3 linked regions of the Homo sapiens genome follow. Changing the gene in region 2 together with the main gene of any one other region gives a genetic interaction. Each region holds a gene or a part of one and is shown on either strand. Other genes may lie near its edges.

Evidence for each region. Genes that interact genetically often act in the same process or in processes that back each other up.
Region 1: changes in TRAPPC13 (region 2) and ARMH3 are lethal when combined (synthetic lethality), as found in Homo sapiens cells (one study listed by BioGRID).
Region 3: changes in TRAPPC13 (region 2) and EIPR1 are lethal when combined (synthetic lethality), as found in Homo sapiens cells (one study listed by BioGRID).

What each region holds. Positions count from the first base shown.
Region 1 is NC_000010.11:102,004,150-102,011,173, reverse strand, and holds part of ARMH3 (armadillo-like helical domain-containing protein 3), read left to right. Parts: intron 1-1,150; coding exon 1,151-1,197; intron 1,198-1,724; coding exon 1,725-1,800; intron 1,801-4,540; coding exon 4,541-4,634; intron 4,635-6,690; exon of another isoform or gene 6,691-6,808; intron 6,809-7,024. UniProt on the Homo sapiens protein: Involved in GBF1 recruitment, Golgi maintenance and protein secretion.
Region 2 is NC_000005.10:65,620,514-65,628,033, forward strand, and holds the start of TRAPPC13 (trafficking protein particle complex subunit 13), read left to right. Parts: upstream 1-4,513; 5' UTR 4,514-4,547; coding exon 4,548-4,593; intron 4,594-7,520. Other genes in the region: E3 ubiquitin-protein ligase TRIM23, read right to left, coding at 3,681-3,761.
Region 3 is NC_000002.12:3,192,795-3,199,818, forward strand, and holds part of EIPR1 (EARP and GARP complex-interacting protein 1), read right to left. Parts: intron 4,224-7,024; coding exon 4,087-4,223; intron 1,373-4,086; coding exon 1,205-1,372; intron 1-1,204. UniProt on the Homo sapiens protein: Acts as a component of endosomal retrieval machinery that is involved in protein transport from early endosomes to either recycling endosomes or the trans-Golgi network.

The sequences.
Region 1 (7,024 bases), on a different chromosome or scaffold from region 2:
GGGAAGTTATTGGTCCAGCTGGCAAGACTCCAGGGCAAGGTTTCTTGGCATTTGGTACCAGATAATCTGGGACTGATTTTGAAGAGATAAATCTAGGAGATTCTAGAATCTAGGCAGATTCAGAAAGTCTGTCTTTCGGGCATTATTATCCAAGTATTCAGCTCTAGGGCAAGACAATTTTTTGGTTAGTTGCAAGAAGTAGTTGCCCCCTCTCCTCCTCCACTTCTGCAATTCTTTTTCCTCCACTGCTTACGAATTGTTCCTTCTGCCTTCTCAGCCTGTTCTCAGGAAGGGGCCTGATAAACTCTTTAACTCCAAAATGTAAATGAGTGAAGTCTCTCAGGGGCTAGAGAAGTATGAGTTTTGTACTGGTGTTTGATGAAATGAATTAGATACAATTATACTGCTCCCAGATATCTCTGCCTTTCAGTCAAGTTTTCAGAAAGTTTTGTACCAAACACATGAAGCTCTAGGAGCATAGGTTTGTGTATAGTTTCAAGCATAATTAAGGAGGTGGAAGAGGTATTTTTTAGTGGGTGTAGGCATCTTAGTGCTTCTGATATCATACACATTAGAGGCAGCCTACTCCATTTACTTATTCACTTGCTCTGACTAGGACACAAACTAAAGATTTTGTTATCTGAAAAATGGAGAGTGGATCTCATATAGACAGCTTTGGTCTGAAACCTGAATATTGTTCCCAAAGATAGCTTTATGTTGGTTGAAGTCAGCCTGCTTCCTGTGAAGTTTTTCCTAAGTTAGTTTCTGACTTCAAATAAGCAACTTCTAGGAAAGATACAGAGTGATGAAGATGTGTAGGTTAACTGTCAGAGGGACTAAACTTACACACTGAAAAGGAGAGTTGGACAAAAGTACTAGGCTTTTTCTTTAAAGCGAGGTGATTTAGTAGGCAAGATGATTTACTAGGCAAGATGATTTAGTAGGATTCTCATTATTTCATTTATTACTTATGAGTCTTTTAAGATTTTCAAAGTGGGCTGGTTTTGGTGTGTGTGACTTATGGCCTAGAGTTCCAAGTTCTCCCCAGGTGGAAGCAGCTTGTTTTCTTCACTGATAAAAGGCTTCCTAGGCATAAAGCTCCTCTCATATCCTCCTGCTATAAGTTTGCAATTCCCCTTTTCTTCCACAGGTGGGCAGCATGTTCATAGCAGATGCCCATGAGAAAATCTCAGTACAGTAAGTGCCTGACATTCTTGTGCAGTGACTTGGACTTTAGTGTGGGCTGTCCTGCTGGATATGAGAGTGTGCAGTGTTACCTCTTGCTAATCTTTTACAGAATCATACTTTTTTGGTGATTTTCAAATGTTTCATGGGTTTTGAACATTAATGGACCCTTAGAAATTTCTGCTTTTCATATGTATTGAGCGACAATAAGCTGAACAACTGTTGCCAGACTATCTCTGCAATGAAACAAAAGAGGGATGGGTGTCTGAGCCAGTTGAGGACTTAACTGGGTTGAGGTGGAAAAACAGAGGGAAGATAATGAAGTAGATGAGAACTGGTCCTAAGGAATTAAAGTGAAGGCCCTGACTCCTGCCTATACACTTTTGCATACGCCCAAATGGCAAGTAAAGGGGAACTTTAGAAATGCAAAGGAATTGATAATGAGGCGCTGGGGTGCAATCCAATCTTATCTTCATGGTTATACTGTTTTAACTCCCCCCACTATAAAAACTGCTCCAATTTGTTCTCTTTTTCTTTAGAACCAATGAGGCCATTCTTCTGGCACTTTATGAAGCTGTTCATTTAAATCGCAACTTCATCACAGTATTAGCTCAGGTTGGTCACATTAAAAATCCCAGTGTTTTTTTCTCTCTAAATTTCATACCGATTAATTCCATTGAAAAGCCTATCTGGCTGTACTTGTTTAAACCCTGCTTTGCATTGGTAAGTGGTAGTAACAAGGAGTTGAATCAGTTGCCTTTGTTTCCTGCTGTCCTCAAATATGTATGTTTCCATTGGTGCTGAAATGGGTCTAATAACGTGCAAAGTTAGTTTTTTTGGCCAATTTATTGATCCTGTTAACCCAAATGAATTGTCATGACTTCATTTTGCTCACTAGAAATCCCTGGTATTATCCGCTATGTGGATTTTTATATTGGGCTTTCTGCTTTCCACACCACTGTGGAATTACAACTGGAGATAAAATAGGCCAAGCCACTCACCTTATTATCTCACCAATTTCCAGAGGAAAAAAGTAAAAAATATCCTGGCCAGGTTAAGGTTAGCTGTTAACAGATAACGTGGTTTACATACATTGAAAGGAAGTCATAGAATACTGAGCGCTGGGCCCTGCGCTGTGGCTCACGCCTGTAATCCCAGCACTTTGGGAGGCTGAGGTGGGCGGATCACAAGGTCAGGAGATCAAGACCATCCTGGCTAACACGGTGAAACCCTGTCTCTTCTAAAAATAAAAAAAAAATTAAAAAAAAAATAGCTGGGCGTGGTGGCGGACGCCTGTAGTCCCAGCTACTTGGGAGGCTGAGGCAGGAGAATGACGTGAACCCAGGAGGCAGAGCTTGCAGTGAGCCGAAGTCGCGCCATTGCACTCCAGCCTGGGTGACAGAGTGAGACTCTGTCTCAAAAAAAAATAAAATAAAAACAAAACATAACAAAATAAAACAAAATAAAAAAACAAACAAAAATACCCCCAGAATACTGAGCGATGGGTCACATGCCTGAGGGATAGCCACAGTAATTGGCATAGAAGAGGACTAAAGTAGACCAAGAACTCAAGAGCTGTCCATGAAAGCCATTTTAAAAAATTGATAAAGTGTTATTATCTTAAAGCCAGACTGTTTAAAATATGTATGTAGGGTTATTTTAAGGGAAAGTTTGCTTATGCTTTTTCTCAAAGGGTAGATGTATATGGAATCTATTGATTTGAATTTTAACACAAAAATAAGGTCATGCTTAAAAAGCATCATGCTGGTTTGAGATCTGCTTCATAGAACACTTAAGAGTTTTCATGACTGATAACATAGAGACTTTAGTTATTATTTTCACTCGTTTCTTATCTGCTCTCCAAATCCTATAACTGATTGTAAAGGAAGAGGTGAGGAAGGTAAAGTGCTGGTAAAGCTGTTAGGGAAGAAAAGGGAAGTTAAAAACAGCTATCACTCAGCTTAATTCTCAAGAGCTGATGTGGGAGGGATGGCTAAGAAAGGTTAGGGACAGAAGAGTCATCTGTTTTGGTCCCTACTGGGTGTCTCACCATGTCTTTGCCTCCCAATGAAGGCACACACACTTTTGTTTGTTGTGGAACAGGAAGGCCGCCATCTGAATAGCTCTTTTGCTTTTTTTTTTTTTTTTTTTTTTTGGAGATGGTGTCTCGCTCTGTCACCCAGGCTGGAGTGCAGTGGCACGATCTCTGCTCACTGCAAGCTCTGCCTCCCGGGTTCACGCCATTCTCCTGCCTCAGCCTCCCGAGTAGCTGGGACTACAGGTGCCTGCCACCACACCTGGCTAATTTTTTTTTTTTTTTTTTTTTTTTTTTAGTAGAGACAGAGTTTCACTGTGTTAGCCAGGATGGTCTTGATCCCCTGACCTCGTGGTCCATCTGCCTCGGCCTCCCAAAAGTGCTGGGATTACTGGTGTGAGCCACCGCACCCGGCTGAATAGCTCTTTTTATAGTACCTGGTATCCCCTTGACTCATCTACATCTGCTAGTCAATTATTTGGTTATCAGAACAGCCTATTGATGTGTTTTAGGTTGATCTGATGAGATCCCAGGTCTGGATGGGATTGCAAATGTTCTCTGCTCTCTTGTAGAATAATCCTGTATATTTGTTGACCCCAGTTTTTTTTTTTTTTTTTAAATGTCTGTGGTGCCACAGAAAAACTTATGTAATGGGAACCTAGTTGCTTAAGATAAATTAGCACACAGAGCTTATTAGAGATTAGCAAGCATCAGTCGTAATCAAGTACTCATGAGAACGAAATACAGAAGTAGTCCCTTCTCAGCTTTTTTTTTCTTTTTTTTTTTTTTTTTTTGAGATAGAGTCTTGCTGTGTCACCAGGCTGGAGTGCAGTGGCGTGATATCACCTCACTGCAACCTCCGCCTCCTGGGTTCAAGTGATTCTCCTGCCTCAGCCTTCCAAGTAGTTGGGACTACAGGCATGCACCACCATGCCTGGCTAATTTTTTGTATTTTAGTAGAGACGGGGTTTCACCGTGTTGGCCAGGATGGTCTCGATCTCCTGACCTTGTGATCTGCCCAGGCCTCCCTAAGTGCTGGGATTATGGGTGTGATCCACTGTGCCCAGCCTCAGTGAGCTTTCTAATTATGAGACTAGGGGCACAGTGGCATGCATCTGTAGTCCTACGTACACAGGAGGCTGAGGCAGGAGAGTGCTTGAGCCTAGGATTTCGAGACCAGCTTGGACAACATAGCAAGATGCTGTCTCAAAAAAAAAAAATTATAAGGTCCAGAATACCAGTCCTTATTGGTATTAGGCACTTGATACTCAGGGAGAACTGGATTTTCTGTTTTCTTACACATCTGTGTATCTTTTTCAGAGCCATCCAGAAATGGGCTTGGTGACGACCCCTGTCAGTCCTGCTCCTACAACCCCAGTCACACCACTTGGGACCACACCGCCTTCCTCTGATGGTGAGCCCACCACCACTTTGTTTTTCTTGGTTAATATGATCTTAGATCTCTCAGAGTGAGCATAGCTGTGTTCAACAAAGAACCTACGTAGTTGTTAATTTTTCCCACTAAATTGGTCTGTAGTACTATCCTTCAGGCCTCCTAAATTTCCAAAGAAAACTTTGGAAAAAGACAGTCCAGTGATTTTCTCTGTAAAAGAAGCTTACATAACTCTAGCTTTTCCTCCTCAGGGAGTAGTTGTAGAGGCATGGAGTGCTAGACCTGCAAGGTCAGTAATGCCTGTCCTGCCACACTCTCAGAGTCCTTGTGAGGCTCAGATGAGATATTTTGTGAAAAATGTCACCTTGTGATTATAAAGCACTGAAATGAATGTAAAATAGTAATGTTATCTGATGTTACCATTTGATCAATGAGGGAATTAAGGCCAGAGAAATGAAGCAGTTTGCCTAAGATTAGTGAGAGTAGAGACTGAGAACCCAAACATGTAAGCAGGATCTTGTCTATTTTGTTTACTACTAAATGCCTAGCATAGTGCCCAGCATGGTACTTGCTTAATAAATATTTGTTGAATAAATGAATGAGAATGTGAACCTGGCACTCACTCACTGTTATGTGTCTATCAGCCACTCCCAGTTGGAAAGGACAGGCTTTGAGTGTATTATAATTGGGAGTTTGGTGGATACGTAAGATTTATCTCCCTCAAGACAACAACGGTGAAAATTTCCCCTTCATAAATCTTATGGCTGGAACCTAAGAAAAAGGCAACAGAAAAGAAATTATGAATTTTTGCCAAAAATTTTGAGGTCTATTATAGGCTGAGTGTGTTTGGTGGAATATTGTAACCTAAAAACAATCTATGTTAATATTTGATGTTGTAGCTCAAAGATTGACCTTGTTTTGGTAAAGAAGTACAGACAATCCAACTTTGATACTTTCTTTTTGCCTCCCCACTGTTTGTACGTGAAATGACCTTCTTTATTCTTTCTCTCCTTTAAGTTTTCATATACCACCCGTGGCAGTAACATTTCCAGGCAGTATAAACAGTACAGAACTATGACAGGGAGGTGCCATTGTTAGTTATATATATGGTAGCAAATTGGATCTGTTTAGAATTGAAAGCCAAATCCCAAAATATCTTTTTTTTTTTTTTTTTTTTTTTGAGACAGAGTCTTGCTGTCATTTAGGCTAGAGTGTGGTAGTGTGATCTCGGCTCACTGCAACCTCTGCCTCCCAGATTCAGGCGATTCTCATGCCTCAGCCTTCTGAGTAGCTGAGATTACAGGCATGTACCACAATGCCCGGCTAATTTTTGTATGTTTATTTTTATTTATTTATTTGTTTTTGAGACGGAGTCTCGCACTGTTGCCTAGGCTGGAGTGCAGGGGTGCGATCTCAGCTCACCGCAACCTCCACCTCCCAGGTTCAAGTGATTCTCCTGCCTCAGCCTCCCTGGGACTACAGGTGTGTGCCACCATGCCCGGCTAATTTTTTGTATTTTTAGTAGAGATGGGGTTTCACAGTGTTAGCCAGGATGATCTCGATCTCCTGACCTCGTGATCCGCCTGCCTCGGCCTCCCAAAGTGCTGGGATTACAGGCGTGAGCCACCACGCCTGGCCAATTTTTGTATTTTTAGTAGAGATGGGGTTTCACTGTATTGGCCAGGCTGGTCCCGAACTCCTGACCTCAGGTGATCCGCCTGCCTCGGGCTCCCAAAGTGCTGGGATTACACCCATGAGCCACCATGCCCAGCCCCAAAATATCTTACTGAGAAGGAGCAAGTAGTAAGGATTGCCTACTTGTCTCTGTTTATTCAGGCCACAGAATAACCCAATGGAAATACAGTACTTTCTCTTTAAGAATGAACCCTGCCTGGTTACCATGGATATCAAAAGCCATATATATATATATGAGTTCCATGTGATGTTGGGGTTTGGATGCTTCAGAGAACTGCCTTTCAAACTGTTCATTGTGAACACTTCCACCCACACACTTGATTATGCAATGGTAGGATTTGTGCTTACTTACCTACAACCAGTGAGCTTTTATTTTTTCTAGTGGGAAGATCAAGTCAGCCCACTTTCAAATGACTGTCTCCCTTGACAAAAGCTGCTGGGAAGAATTATGAAGCCAAAGATCAAGGAATGACTCTTCCTTAGGAAGAAGATTTTAATTTGTGAGGGATTTTATTCTGTCTCTGTTCTATTTGTTCTTTTCCCTGTCTCCTAACTCATTTCCTTCTGTAGGGTTCCTAAGTATTACAACCTTGTTTTTAATTTTTAGATCTTAATTATAGTGGTGTTCAGTAGCCCACTTATATTTAAAGGTATGTCACCAGAGCCATATTTTTAAAAGCCGGCAGTTTAGCTATAACATTTGTTCTCAGCTCAGA
Region 2 (7,520 bases):
CATATGATTAAAACAAAAAGAAAAATAATAGAATATATTCATTTTTGCATAAAGGTGGGGAAAGAGCAAATTTTTTTTGTATTGTTGTATAAGCGTATTGTCTTCCTGGAAGGATACATAGGACACCAGTAACATTGGAACACTGGTTCCCCATGAAAAAGGCAAACAACTGGGGAACAGCTATCCACGTATAATTCTGTCTATTATTCATATATACACATACTTCAATTTATCCTACATTTTTTAAAAAGGGGAAAGTTTCACGTTATCAAATTCTTTAGGCCAGGCACTGTGGCTCACACCTGTAATCACAGCACTTTGGGACACCAAGGCAAGAGGACTGCTTGAGGCCAGGAGTTCAAGACCAGCCTGGGCAACACAGCGAGACCCTGTCTCTACAAAAAAAAATCAAAAACTGAGGTGGGAGGATCATTTGAGCCCAGGAGGTCGAGGTTGCTATGAGCCATGATCGTGCCATTGCACTCCCACCTGGGTGACAGAGTGAGAACCTGCCTCAAAAAAAAAAAATTCAATTAAATATAGAAAAAATATTCATAGGCTGGGTGCGGTGGCTCACGCCTGTAATCTCAGCACTTTGGGAGGCCAAGGCGGGCAGATCACGAGGTCAGGAGATTGAGACCATCCTGGCTAACGTGGTGAAATCCCATCTCTACCAAAAATACAAAAAATTAGCCAGGCGCGGTGGCGGGCACCTGTAGTCCCAGCTACTCGGGAGGCTGAGGCAGGAGAATGGTATGAACCTAAGAGGCGGAGCTTGCAGTGAGCCAAGATTGTGCCACTGCCCTCCAGCCTGGGCGACAGAGTGAGGCTCTGTCTCAAAAATTCACAATAGAATTTGATATAAAATAAATGCAACATTTTATAAATGCTGTATTATGATACTCTAATAAAGTAAATTTATGACAATAAACTCCAAAGAACCATATTAAAATTGTTTAGTTCATTTCAATCCTGTATCTCTGATCCCATCACTATACAAAGATTTAAAAGAACTTCCTTATGCTGTTAATGTATTTTTCAAAAAGCACTAATAAAATTCCATTGATTAGCAAACCAAACACAGGTCCAAAAATAAAGTTACTAGACTATTTTGCATCAACTCGGTAAATAATACAGCAAGAAAATATTTCCTCAGTATCTATAAATAGGAATTGTGGTTAACAGCAAAAAACCCTAGATAGGAAAAAGCTCTTAATTTTACACTTCAAAAAATGCCAAAAAAGCTTCAAACTTATTACTTGTAAATCAAACTGTAATCAATCAGATATTTTATTTTATGTTGTTATTTATTATTATTATTATTTTTTTTTTGAGAAAGGGTCTCACTCTGTCAGCCAGGCTGGAGAGTAGTGGCCTGAGCATGGTTCACTGCAGCCTTGACCTCCCAAGCTCAGACAATCCTCCTGCCTCAGACTCCCAAGTAGCTGGTACCACAGGCATGTGCCACTACGCCTGGCTAATTTTTTTTTATTATTATTTGTAGAGATAGGATCTCACCATGTTGCCCAGGCTGGTCTCAAACTCTGGGGCTCAAGCAATCCTCCCACCTCAGCCTCCCAAAGTGCTGAGATTAAAGGTGTGAAACTTTCTGTGATACATTTTTAAATGTCAGTTATTTCACAATATCAGATTTTTTATCTTTTATTTTTCAGATGGAGTCTCACTCTGTCACCCAGGCTGGAATGCAGTGGCACAAACTCAGCTCACTGCAACCTCCGCCTCCTGGGTTCAAGTGATTCTCCTACCTCAGCCTCCTGAGTAACTGGGATTAACAGGCCCACACCACAATGCCTGGCTACGTTTTGTATTATTAGTAGAGACGGGGTTTCGCCATGTTGGCCAGGCTAGTCTCAAACTCCTGACCTCAAGTGATCCGCCCACTTTGGCCTCCCAAAGTGCTTCCCAGGCACTTTGTGCTTTACAGGCGTGTGCCACCGCGCCTAGCCACAATATCAGATTTTTATGTTACTGTTTTCTCTAATGATAAAAGCCATGTCATTATCAACTTGTTCACAAGCAAAAGGCCATTTTACACAGTATTAGCATTATATACTTCAACTTTTACCTTCCAATAAATACTTCTTGCTTTCATCTATAGAAATGACAGTGAGATTTTTTTAGTTTATGCTACTATACCTACTACAAATTATGGCATGAAGATTTTGTCAGAAAGGACTATTTCATTGCACAGTTCAGGAATATTTTACATGTTAAGATGAAAATGAACAAGGTGAGCCTCCAATGTATCAAATTCTGTGCTGTAAGAAACTGGAGTTACATCAGGCTTTGGTACACTTTTGAGACTGTAAGGCAAACAGGGTAACAAAAAAATAGATACTGCAATGATACCCATTCCAATTATGAAATAAAACTTAAACTTCAAGTTAATTCACAAACTGCTCTTCAAGTATTCTCTACTTAGCAAAAGCACAATTCAATAAATAAAATCTCAGTCACACAACATGCCTAATAATGAGGGCTCCTTTGCATATCAGATATGCCGTGTACCTGTAGAATAACTTCATTAGTACCTAAAGGTCATCTGAATCAACAACCACCAATATTCACTGATACTAAATTGTGGGAAGAAATGTCTCATTTGCTGTCATATAAAACCAACATTACCTGAATAATCATAGGTGTCTACTTTTCAAGATGTGAAAAAAACTTCATATATTACCTTGATCAGTAATTCATAACCCTGGTTGCACATTAAAATAACTTCTGGTAATTCCTAAAATATACTGATGTCAACCTCATCAGAACTGGAGGAGGAGTGCATCAGTAGTGTACTAAAACTCCTCAGTGATCCTAATATGTAGCCAGGAATGAGAATTATCAATCTCTTAGATTAGAGATGCTCCTGAAGGTTACTCTATAAACCAATGGGATCAGTTCTCCCCTCCATATCTTTCCGTGCACAACAGTGGAAGGGAAAAATGAGTGCCACATATTTCAAATGATTTTTTAGCAAATTGATTCTGGAGCATGTATACATGGTAGAATCTCAAACTTCAAGCATAAGAAAATTCATAAACTCTATCGTTAATGCCCAGCTATGACGATGCTGCAGACTTGTGCAAAGAGTTAATAGACTGTACTACTAACAGGGGAGGGGGCAGCTCACCCAATAACAGATGTCTGATTACAGACGCAGTACAAGAGCGAAAAGTACAGACTTTAAAGCCGGTCAACCCGGGGCTCTGCCACACACTGTTTACCTAAACCTGGGTTTCCTCCCTGTAAAATGGGAATTCACATCTACTTCATAAGTAGATATTAACGAGCTAAAACACCTAACTTAGTACGTAGTTACGATGATGATGACTCAATTTATAATACTAAGCTAATTAATGTCTGTTGAGTTTAACTAAAAGCAGAGGACCTGGAGAAAAGACCGGTCTAGGTCACTGCCACTGGCCCGCAAGCTCCTTTTCACAAATGTCCCGATGATGACATGTCATGAGCAGAAGACCAGGCAATTTCAGGCCATAGGAGAGAAAGGATGCAGAGGACAGGACGAGACTTGTAATGCCAAAAGGGGCCCAGAGGCCGCGCATCCCACCTATCGAAGCCTGGGCCGCGGCGATGCCGCCAGGTCTCCAGGATGAACCGAAGGGAGGCCGATGGTGGAGAATAGAGCACGCAAGGTCCCTCACCTTCACTACAGCTGTCCCCCGGCTGCCCTGCCGGCCACTGTCTACTCCCGCTCCGAGCTTGTTTACAACCAGGGTAGCCATCCTCGCAGGGGAAGCGCCACAGAAACAGCCTTCAGAGTCCTCAACTGAGAGGCGGGGTTGAGCCACCTACCCAGAGGCCTCTGCGCACGCCACCGGCGCACAGGCGCAGTAGGACACTGGGCGCCGCTTAGCCGACTCTTACTCCTCCTCCCCGCAATCGTCGGGTGGTTAGTTGCACAGCCTCGCGCATGGGCACTTTTGTTATTTTTCATTATGTAGTCTGCAGCTGCTGGAGGAAAGACAAGAAAAAAAAAGAAGGGACAAAACGATTAAAGTTTTGGGGTGAAAACTCCAGATCCTTTAATGATTTTTCCTCTCGAATCCAAACCAGCCAGGGCGTGAACTGAGGGCGGTGAGGGGGTACGGGCATCTCCCTGCATGCAACGCGGTTTTTGTATAAACTACAAATCCCAGCATGCCACTCTCTCTCTCTCTCTTTTTTTTTTTTTTTTTTTTTTTTAAAAAAAAAACTCCGGCAACGTTGGCCTTTGGGAGGCCGCGTATTGTTACCTAGGGGTGGTTTCTTTTCCTGCAGTCGCGATGTGTGATTGCAGATGGAAAACAAAGTATTTTATGCCTACGTTTCTAAGATAGAAGAAATGGACTTGTTGAAAAGAAGCCAGTTTGTAAAGGACACAGTAGGAGAATTTAAGGTACCACCACCAGAGAGAGGTTGAGAGTGCGTTTGACTTTTGGTTTTGCCAAACGCGAGGTTTTCCGTTTCCTTCCGGGGCAAGTTGAACCTGTCCAGCCCCCGTAGGCTGTGGGTCAAAAGTGCCGGTCAAAATGGAAGTGAATCCCCCTAAACAGGAGCACCTGCTGGCGCTAAAAGGTAAACTTTTGCGAACCTGATTCCCCCTTTTCTGTTTCCTTGCATTCCCTACTTATCGAAGCCTTTGCCATGTAGGCCTCATCCTTCTTAAACACTCAGTGCTCGCCCTCCTGCTCTGTCCTTTGCCGCCAAGCGGGAGGAAGCGATTTCTCCTGGATGCTTTTTAGGTTTATGGGCCCCTTTCTAGAACGAAATAGATACCTGGTAAATCGTTCTTTCTGATCTGTGCTGCTTCAGTCACGAGATTTTAGCCGCAGAAGCTGACGTCCCGCTCCTACCGTGGAGATCTCTGTGAATTACAGCGGGCATCCAAAGTGCTTTTTCCTTCTGTCTCTTGTTTCTTCCTGTGGCACTGACGAAGTTAATCAGGCTTCAGCTTCCCCTGTAAAATTAGTATTGCATGACAGTAGTGCAGAGAATTTAGCAATACATAGTAATACAACATATAACTTAGATTTATTCAAAACAAACTGCAGTTTACTTCAAATCACTGTGTATGTGGGAAATATGTCCGAGATCTAATGTCAACTCTCATTTTTTGTACACAGCCATTTTGAGTAAGTTTGGTGATTTAATTAGATCATTATTTAGGAAAAAACAGCAGCACTTTTTTTTTTAGGACAATTTTTTTAATGCCTATTTTCTGGAAACCTTTTATTTGAAATCTTTTCAGCTTTATTTTATTTGTTTTTTACTACAACAAATGCGCTTTTTGTTTCTTGGATGCCTTAATATATGGTTAACAATGACTTCTTGAATGAGCTGAGGAAATGCTCAATAAACATTCGGGTTCAATTGAATTGCGCTTACTTTACTTATGGCATCCATTTTGAGGAACGCCTTATCCTTCCCATTATGATGTAGTCATCAGACTTTCTAGAAGCTCATCAGTCTCATATAATGATGCCTGTGTTAGCGAGATTGTCTCTTACTGTGGAACTTTGTAATGTTTAGTGATACAGTGATGGGACCTGTAAGCTTAACCTGAGCAAATGATCTAGACTAAAATGGAGATTAAAATGGATTGTTACTCGTGGAGAAGAGGGAAAAGAAGAAAAGCAACTAATTGTCGTGTTCTTTATCTCACAATCTCACTTCAAGTATGTGGAGTAAATATTAATTCTCAGAGTTTAAGTAACTTTTCCAAGATCACATAGCTAGTGATTGAGGCAGTGTTTCAACGCAAGGCCTGCCTCTCTTTCCAAGAGTCCGTGTTGCCTCCTAAAGAATGAAGCAGCATTCTCAGAGATAATTCCTCTACCAGCTACTCCGATGGGAATTTGGAACAGTTCTATTAACTGCTACGTGTGATTTATACAAATTAGAAGCTATTAAAAACAGTTAAATTGCAGCCGCGCGTGGTGGCTCACCCCTGTAATCCCAGCAGTTTGGGAGGCCAAGGCGGGTGATCACAAGGTCAAGAGATCAAGACCATCCTGGCTAACATAGTGAAACCCCGTCTCTATAAAAATACAAAAAGTTAGCCAGGCGTGGTGGCGGGCGCCTGTAGTCCCAGTTACTCAGGAGGCTGAGGCAGGAGAATGGCGTGAACCCGGGAGGCGGAGCTTGCAGTGATCCGAGATCACGCCACTGCACGCCATCCTAGGCAACAGAGCGAGACTCCATCTCAAAAAACAAACAAACAAAAAGTTAAATTCCAGTGATACAGAGACTGCCACTGGGAATTTTTAGTTTTCTGTTATTCTTTTTTTTCCAAAACCAAGGATACCTAAGAAAGAATATTTAAGCAGCCTAAGCCAGGCGTGGTGGCTCACGCCTGTAATAGCACTTTGGGAGGCCGAGGCTGGCAGATCACTTGAGATCAGGAGTTGACACCAGCCTGGCCAACATGGCGAAAACCCGTCTATACCAAAAATACAAAAATTAGCCAGGTGTGGTGGTGTAATCCCAGCTACTCGGGAGACTGAGGCAGGAGAACCGCTTGAACCTGGGAGGCAGAGGCTGCAGTGAGCTGAGATTGCGCCACTGCACTCCAGCCTGGGTGACAGAGTGAGACCCTGTCTCAAAAAAAAAAAAAAAAAAAAAAAAAAGAACAATAAGCAGCCTAAACGGACAAGTGCTTCAAAATTGACTGATAGTTTCAACTTTATTAAACCTCTTTAGTACCATCTTATAGTTAACCCATTGTTCTAGTTAATCAACAATTTTCACACATTTCAATGTGCTGATGCTGAATGCCAAATGTATTAATTTAAGTGGTCATTTAAGTTCACTTTATCTTTTAATATGTAAAATGTTAAAGATAATATCTTGTTATTCTTGGTTGGGTGAGGTGGCTGATCACTTGAGATCAGGAGTTCGAGACCAGCCTAGCCAACATTATGAAACCCCGTCTCTACTGAAAATACAAAAATTAGCCAGGCGTGATGGTGTGCACCAGTGGTCCCAGCTACTCAGGAGGCTGAGGCACAAGAATCACTTGACCCTGGGAGGCGAAGGTTGCTGTAAGCCGAGATTGTGCCACTGCACTCTAACCTGGGCAACAAAGACTCTGTCTCAAAAAAAAAAAAAAAGTCATCCCTTGAGTATAACACTGATTGACTTTAGACAACAAGAGAATTTCTCAGTGCCATATTTTACAATGTGAAAGTATAAGGAACAGGGAAGAAAAACATTAGTGCATCATTAGTTCTTGAAAGTATATATGATAACATTTAGATCCATATTTAAAATATGGATGTTAAAGATCACAATTATTTATGAATTTGAGAGTTGTCAGATCTGTTAGTGGGCAGTATCAGTAGGTAAAAATAATGAAATTATTTCTTCTAACTCTTCAGAATCAGACAGTGATTCTATTGTGAAATGATGACAAGAATCCATACTCATGGTTATCCTAGCAGTGGGAGAACCCTCATCAAGTAATTCTCTAATGATTTTTGGGGAGAAGGGATTCAACTTATTTT
Region 3 (7,024 bases), on a different chromosome or scaffold from region 2:
AGACTAAATGTTGGCTGAAACCTACAGGAGGAGAAGGCTTATCACGCAACATTTCAGACAAGCTTTCTAAAATTCGAAAAAAAAAAAAAAATACTGTCCCAGAAGCAACATGTGGATTAGCGATATCCTGTAATATCAAACAAGTCTCACGGCATCTTCCCAGTTGGCAGTGACTGTGGGTCCTGAGACCAGGGCATGGCGGCCTCCCGGGGCACAAGGGCTGTCCTTGGTTTTGGCTACTGGGATCAGCTTTCTTGCTGGCGTGGGTCCTAGAGCCTGGGAGCTTCTGCCTCCCGTCATGCTGAGGCCAAAACAAGCTCCAGGGCCCAGGTGGCAGACAGTGCCAGGCCCTTGACGCTAGGAGGTGCACCCAGCATGGCCAGGGGCACAGGGAGGCCCAGCCACTCAGACCACAGGAAATTCCAGCAAGTCACTGAATTTATCAGAAGTGTGCACTACCAATCCGGGGTTTTAACATACAGCTTCAGATAAGTAATTCAAACAATACAGAGATGCAGGCCATAGGGAGTGAATGCCCCTCTTTGACTTGGGGAGGATTCCTGATGAGATTTTGGCTCTTACTCTTTCAGACATTTCCTCCACATACCTGTGTCACTCACACTTGTGTACACCCGTGTGTGCACACACGTTTTATTTGCATAAAAATGGATTCATGCTATACATGCCATTGTACAACTTGATCTTTTTACTTACTTAGCAAAAAGTACCCAGCACATGAAAAACATTCAAATAATATGTTAGGGAGAATGAGTGACCTCAGAGATCTTCCCACAGCCACATAGAGATGCTCCACATTCTCCCGACAGCTGCATCATCTCCACTGCACGGATGTCACCTAATTTACTTAACCAGTCCCCTAGTGATGGACATTTGGGTGGTTTCCAGGTTTCTGGCATTACAAATAATGTTGCGTGAACATCTGTGCACATTTATTTTTGTATACTTGAACCAGCACTGTTTCAAGAGAAAACAGAATTTAATGTTTTTCTTCTTTTCCTACGTTTATAAATCACAAACATTCAGATTTGGAATTAGTGTTTCTTTAGGAAAAATAAAACTGGGTTGATTGAATGATTCACAGCAGCACAAACTAAGCTGGTTTGTGTCTTTCCCAATGGTAAAGTAATTAGCAAAATCAATTGCGTAATCCCCTCCTCCCTGAAGCAGCCAGGAGCGGCCCTACCAGTGGGAGTGCTCCTCCAGGGTCTTCACGGGTTCGGTGACATTTCGGGTGTCCCAGAACTTCACCTTACAGTCGTCTCCGCAGCTGGCCAAGTAGTACTGCTTATTGGGATTAAAGTCAAGGTCCCGCACCAGCTGTCCGTGGGCATTCTCTATGCAGTAGATCTGGCTGAGGGAGAAGGAAGAACAGCAAAGGAAAATAGTAAATGGATTAGGAAAAGCCACTGCGTGCTGCGGGCACACACTGGTTTCCCGGGACCCTGTCTAATCCCCCGGCCCAGGGTGCTCTCATCCCCTCGGCGTTCCTGCCCTGCAGGAAGAGGCTGGCGCCACCTCCTCCATCCCAGCAACCCTGTGTGGTCGCACCACGCTCATCTCTCCAGAAGCGTATCTGTGACCCTCTGGGCGAGCCGTGGAAGGAATTTTTGCTTTGTAGCCGTCAAAAATGTGACTTGGTATCATCTTGAGAATGAAAGCATGCCAGAGGGGCTGCAACAGCCATGGGGACACTGAGCCAGACATTTGGACAGGATGCCTGACACATTTCTGGAAGGACACAGTGAAGAAGGAAAAGAAAAAGACAGGGAGTTGAGGTAGAATATAGTGTTGGGAAATTTTATATATATATACATACATACACATACAACACAAAATATCTATCTATATATAGAACTATATATATACAGAGAGAGAGAGAAAGGGGGGGGCAGTGGGGAAGGCCATGGAAGCAGGAAGGGGCCGGCTATCTATCTATCTATAGATATATACAGAGAGAGAGAGAGAAAGGGAGGAGCAGTGGGGAAGGCCATGAAAGCAGGAAGGACCATGCCAGCTGGGCTTGCCATTCCACTGTCCACACCAGCTCCAGGTCCAACACTGCTGGTGGCCAGTGCAACCCACTCGCTCCAGGGTGGGAGAAGGGGACTGTTTGAAATGAGTCACACGGCTGTTCACAGTGCGTGCGTTCTCACACTCACGCGTGCATCTGTGTGCACGCCCACACATGTATGTACACACACATGCACACATCTATGCATGAGAGGGCAGACACGCACACACGCACTCACACATCTCACTTTGCCCTGGATCCTATGGTCCTTGGCTGCTCCTCGCAGGGTCTGAAGTCATAATATCCTGCCTATGGCCCTGATGTCATGAATCCCAGAGGGCAGGTCATCCAGTGAGGCTGGACAGTGGCTTGGAACAAAAGGCTGCGCCCAGGAGAGCAAAGAACCCATGGCCTGGCGCTGCCCAGCAGCTCCTACCTGCACGGCCTCCCCAGCACTGCCGTGGGCGGGACTGAAATCACTCCTGCATCATTTACCTTCCTCACCGCAGGCCTCAATGGGGCTGATGAGCAATGGGAAACTTCTGTGCCTTGTAATTTGCTTCCTTTATCTGAAGACCATCATTGTTCTCTGCTCTCCAAAGTAGAGGAACTCAATTCCTTTCATCTTTTTCTCTCACATTAGAACTCCCGGCCCTAAACCACTTTTAAATCTTCTGGTTTTTATATCCTGCACCTTTGCAATATCTTAATATTTCTTCCCTAAAATATAATACCTAAACTTTTAAATCTTTCAAGGGAAACAGGCAAAGGTAGAAAATTTAAAACTTGGCAAATTCCCGGGGAACTAGATGGACAGTCGCACGTGCACGATGTATTAACTAAAGGTTACTGCATGCTCCATCACCAGTAACTGTCACACAAAAGCATCATACCACCTAAAAAAGCACCAAAGGCATCCTGGCTCCATGCAAACCAAAGCTGCTTGCAAAAGGAGAAATGACAGTCAATGAGAAGGCGCCAGGACCCTCTGTGCTGCGCTGGCACGTCCTCACCACAGACACAACACGGGCAAAATGAGGCCACTGCCAGATGTCACCCATCAAAGCCACGGGCATCTTTTTGTTTGCTTATTTGTTTGGTCTGTAACGTCAGTCTTTGAGTTTCTTGTTTTCAGATACTGAAATTCTTCACATCCTTCAAAAAACCATGCAGACAAAGGACACGATGACCACAGGACATGGAGAAATGGATTTCAGCAGGACGTTCATCACGGGCTGAGTCTGTGGTTTCCAGCTTCTGATTAGGAAACCAAACAAGCCCTCTGCACGGACGTGCACAAAGGAGGAAGTGGCAAGTGATTCTTTATTAGCCCCTGAGTTTTCAGAGGGGCCTTGGAACTAAACCTAAAGTTGTGCCCCCACCCTGGAATCAACACGAGTTATTGCATGACATCCGTCTTTTCAGCTCGGTGATAAATTATGGTGTGCTGAGGGGATAAACTGTATCTTAAAAAAGCTTGTGTGGGCTTCCGTTGCCACAGCAACAGACGTGCTACCATCACTCCTTTGCCTATCAAAATCACAACTGGAACGGAAAACTCGCTCTTATTTGTTCCATTAGAGCTGCTGGCTGTTGGGTATAATTACTTAAATGACAAAATATGATTGCCCTATAGGTGTGTCTCCAGAAGGCACAGCTATGGTCAAGGACGACCCCAGGAGAGACTTAACCTGGGGACTGCAGCTGTCAGCCTGCAGCGGCTCATCAGACACGGGCACCCTGTGGTCCCCATCTCGCTCAGTGTTACAAAAGCCCCAATTCCTAGTTTTCATAATAAACTCCTGCTAATGCAGAGATATCAATATGGAACATTAAACAGCCACCGAGGTGCACCGGTTCCATTGCAGTGGATGTGCTAGCTTAATTTGGGGTGAAGAAACAAGATGAAGATTTATGATTTCCTACAAAAACGAGATAAAGACAAACCATGCGCCCCCAAAGGCATGTGGCTCACCATCAGCTCCACCATCATCCCGGTTCTGCTCGGTGAGGGAGGAAAGGAAGTGGGGCCTGCGCCGGGTGGGCTCACTGACCTCATGCTCCGGGTGTCCCAGCCACGGAGGGTGGTGTCGTTCGCTGTGGCCACCTGGGTGCAGTTATGATGTGGGCTCCACCGTCCTGAGGTGAACTTCAGTTGTCCCTTCCCTTCCAGGGACGCTGAGCTGGCCAGCTGGGAGTGTCACGATGTTTTCCAAAGGAAGAAGAAAAGAAGAAGAATGTGAAGTCTGTTCAGAAAACGCGAGAGGATATCGTATACTCAAGGATATTATTGAAAATAATTACTGAGGATAATTAGGAAGCTCTGTCTTTGTTTCCTTTCCTTAAATGGCAAAAATGAACCTTACTTGGGGAAATCTATAAAACTGAGCACAGCAAAAAATAGAAAGCATATTAATAGGCCTCTATTAAAGAGCGTTTGCTTGCAAGTATGTGATTAGAGATAATCAACTCGAACTTGAAGGAAAACAATACAAAACAACTCAAACATCTGGCTTTCCCCAAAGAAAGCGACAAAACAAGTCAGGTCCACCTGAGCGGTTCCGGAATAACAAAGGGACAAACACATTCACTTGGTCAGATGCTGTCTCCAGTGCACGCCCTCTTCCCTCCCTCCGTCTCGAGGCCCACACGGCCTTCGCCTGGCATTTAATCAGACCACCCCAAGCCAGCGAGCTGACCATGAAGGCCTCAGCAAGGCCCTCTGGGGCTGGTGTTAGGGCTAAAACCTCCCCCTGCCTAAAAGAGGGTGGGGCCCAGTTGTGAGCCTGCAAGAAGATCCCCAGCTCGTTTCTCTGCTCGCCTAGGATTTCATGCACAAAGGCTGAGCATGTTGGCTGCATCGTTATTTCAATTTGGGGGTTGAATTTCAATGCACAGGATGACTGTTAAAGGCAGGAAGCATCCAGGTCTGCCCCAGGGTCCTCTGTCACACCTGCCCCCAAGTCCTCCTGAGGGACACAGTTCCCACCACTAATTCCGTTAACTTTCAAACCAGCTGTGCTCTTCAGAGCCCTCTGAGAGGAGCCTGAGGCAGGTGGCTGGTGAGGCGGGCCTGGCCAGGCTGAGGGCAGGTCCAAACGAGCTGCTAGACAGGCCGTGAGAGGCCCAATGACCGAGCTGGTGCTGGAGTTTATTCAGCATCTCACAAGATTTACCGAGGGGCTTTGCTGGCCAGGGCAGGTTGGGTACCCAGGCTCGGGGTGAACAAGTCCCAGAGGTCCCCACAGAGTGAGTGCCCACTGCATAGACAGGCAGGGGCTCTGCCTGGAAACCACCACTCAGAACAGAAAGACGGGCAGTTCCCAGTGAGAAATAGGGCACCGTCTAAGCCACAGGTAAAGGGCTTTCTGGAAAGAGCGCACTGGCTGCAGATGCTCCTGGTGTCTCCCAGCAAGAGGCCTCCCAATTTCAGAGGTGGCCACTGGGAGGCGTGAGCTACAAGACCTGGTGTCCCCCCAGTCCTATGCAAATGGGCTGTGCGAGAGACTGAGAACTCAAAACAGTCCTGGTCAGAAGCCGAGAAAGGCGGTCATCAGTGAGAGACGCAGACACTGCGCTCAGTCAGGGAGAAGAGGCCTCGGGCCCAGGAAGAGCCACATCTTCACCTCCCACTCCGAAAGCCTGCTCTGATGCTTAGGAAACATTTTTGGAAACTGAAAGCCACCATCCTTGCAGAGCCTTGTTATCGGGGGAACCCACCCCCGATAATTCAACGTAGGTTCTTTTCTATTTTCCCTGTGTCGGTCGGTCTGAGAAATAAAGGGAAAGAGTACAAAAGAGAGAAATTTTAAAGCTGGGTGTCTGGGGGAGACATCACATGTCAGCAGGTTCCATGATGCCCCGTGAGCCGTAAAACCAGCAAGTTTTTATTAGCAATTTTCAAAGGGGAGGGAGTGTACGAATAGGGTGTGGGTCACAGAGATCACATGCTCCAAGGGCAACAGAAGATCACAAGGCAGAAGGTCAGGGTGAGATCACAAGGTCAGGGCGAAACTACAACCACTAATGAACTTCCATGTCCCACTGTGCTTGCATTGTCATTGATAAACATCTTAACAGGGTTCAAGAGCAGAGAACCCATCTGACTAGAATTCGCCAGGCTGGAATTTCCTAATCCTAGCAAGCCTGGGGGCACTGCAGGAGGCCAGGGTGTGTTTCATCCCTCATCTGCAACTGCATATGGCAGACACCCCCAGAGTGGCCATTTTAGAGGGCCCCCCCCCCGCCCCGGGAATGCATTCTTTTCCCGGGCTGTTAATTATTAATATTCCTTACTGGGGAAAGAATTCAGCGATATTTATCTTATCCGTTTTGGTAATAAGAGAAATATGGCTCTGTTCCACCCGGCTCCCAGGCAGCCAGACTTTACGATTGTCCCTTGTTCCCTGAAAATTGCTGTTATCCTGTTCTTAAGGTGCCCAGATTTCATATTGTTCAAACACACATGCTTTACGAACAATGTGTGCAGTTAATGCAATCATCACAGGGTCCTGAGGCAACATACATCCTCAGCTTACGAAGATGACGGGATTAAGAGATTAAAGTAAAGACAGGCATAGGAAATTATAAGAGCATTGATTGGGGAAGTGATAAATGTCCATGAAATCTTCACAATTTATGTTCTTCTGTCACGGCTTCAGCAGGTCCCTCTGTTCGCAGTCCCTGACTTCCTGCAACACCTTGTGGTGGTGAGAAGAGGTCAAGAGAAGGTGGGGACACAAGAGACCCACTGGGGGGACAGGGTACCCATGACTCCATATCTGGGCAGAAGCGAGGAGGTTGTGTCTGCATCTGAGCAGCTATGGGGGGCGTGTCCACATCTGGACAGAGGTAACAGGGCTGTGTCCACATCTGGGCAGAGGTGACATGGGTGTGTCTGCATCTGGGCACGCATGGGGAGGGGTGTGTCCACATCTGGGCAGAGGTGACAGGGGTGTGTCTGCATCTGGGCACGCATGGGGGGGTGTCCAC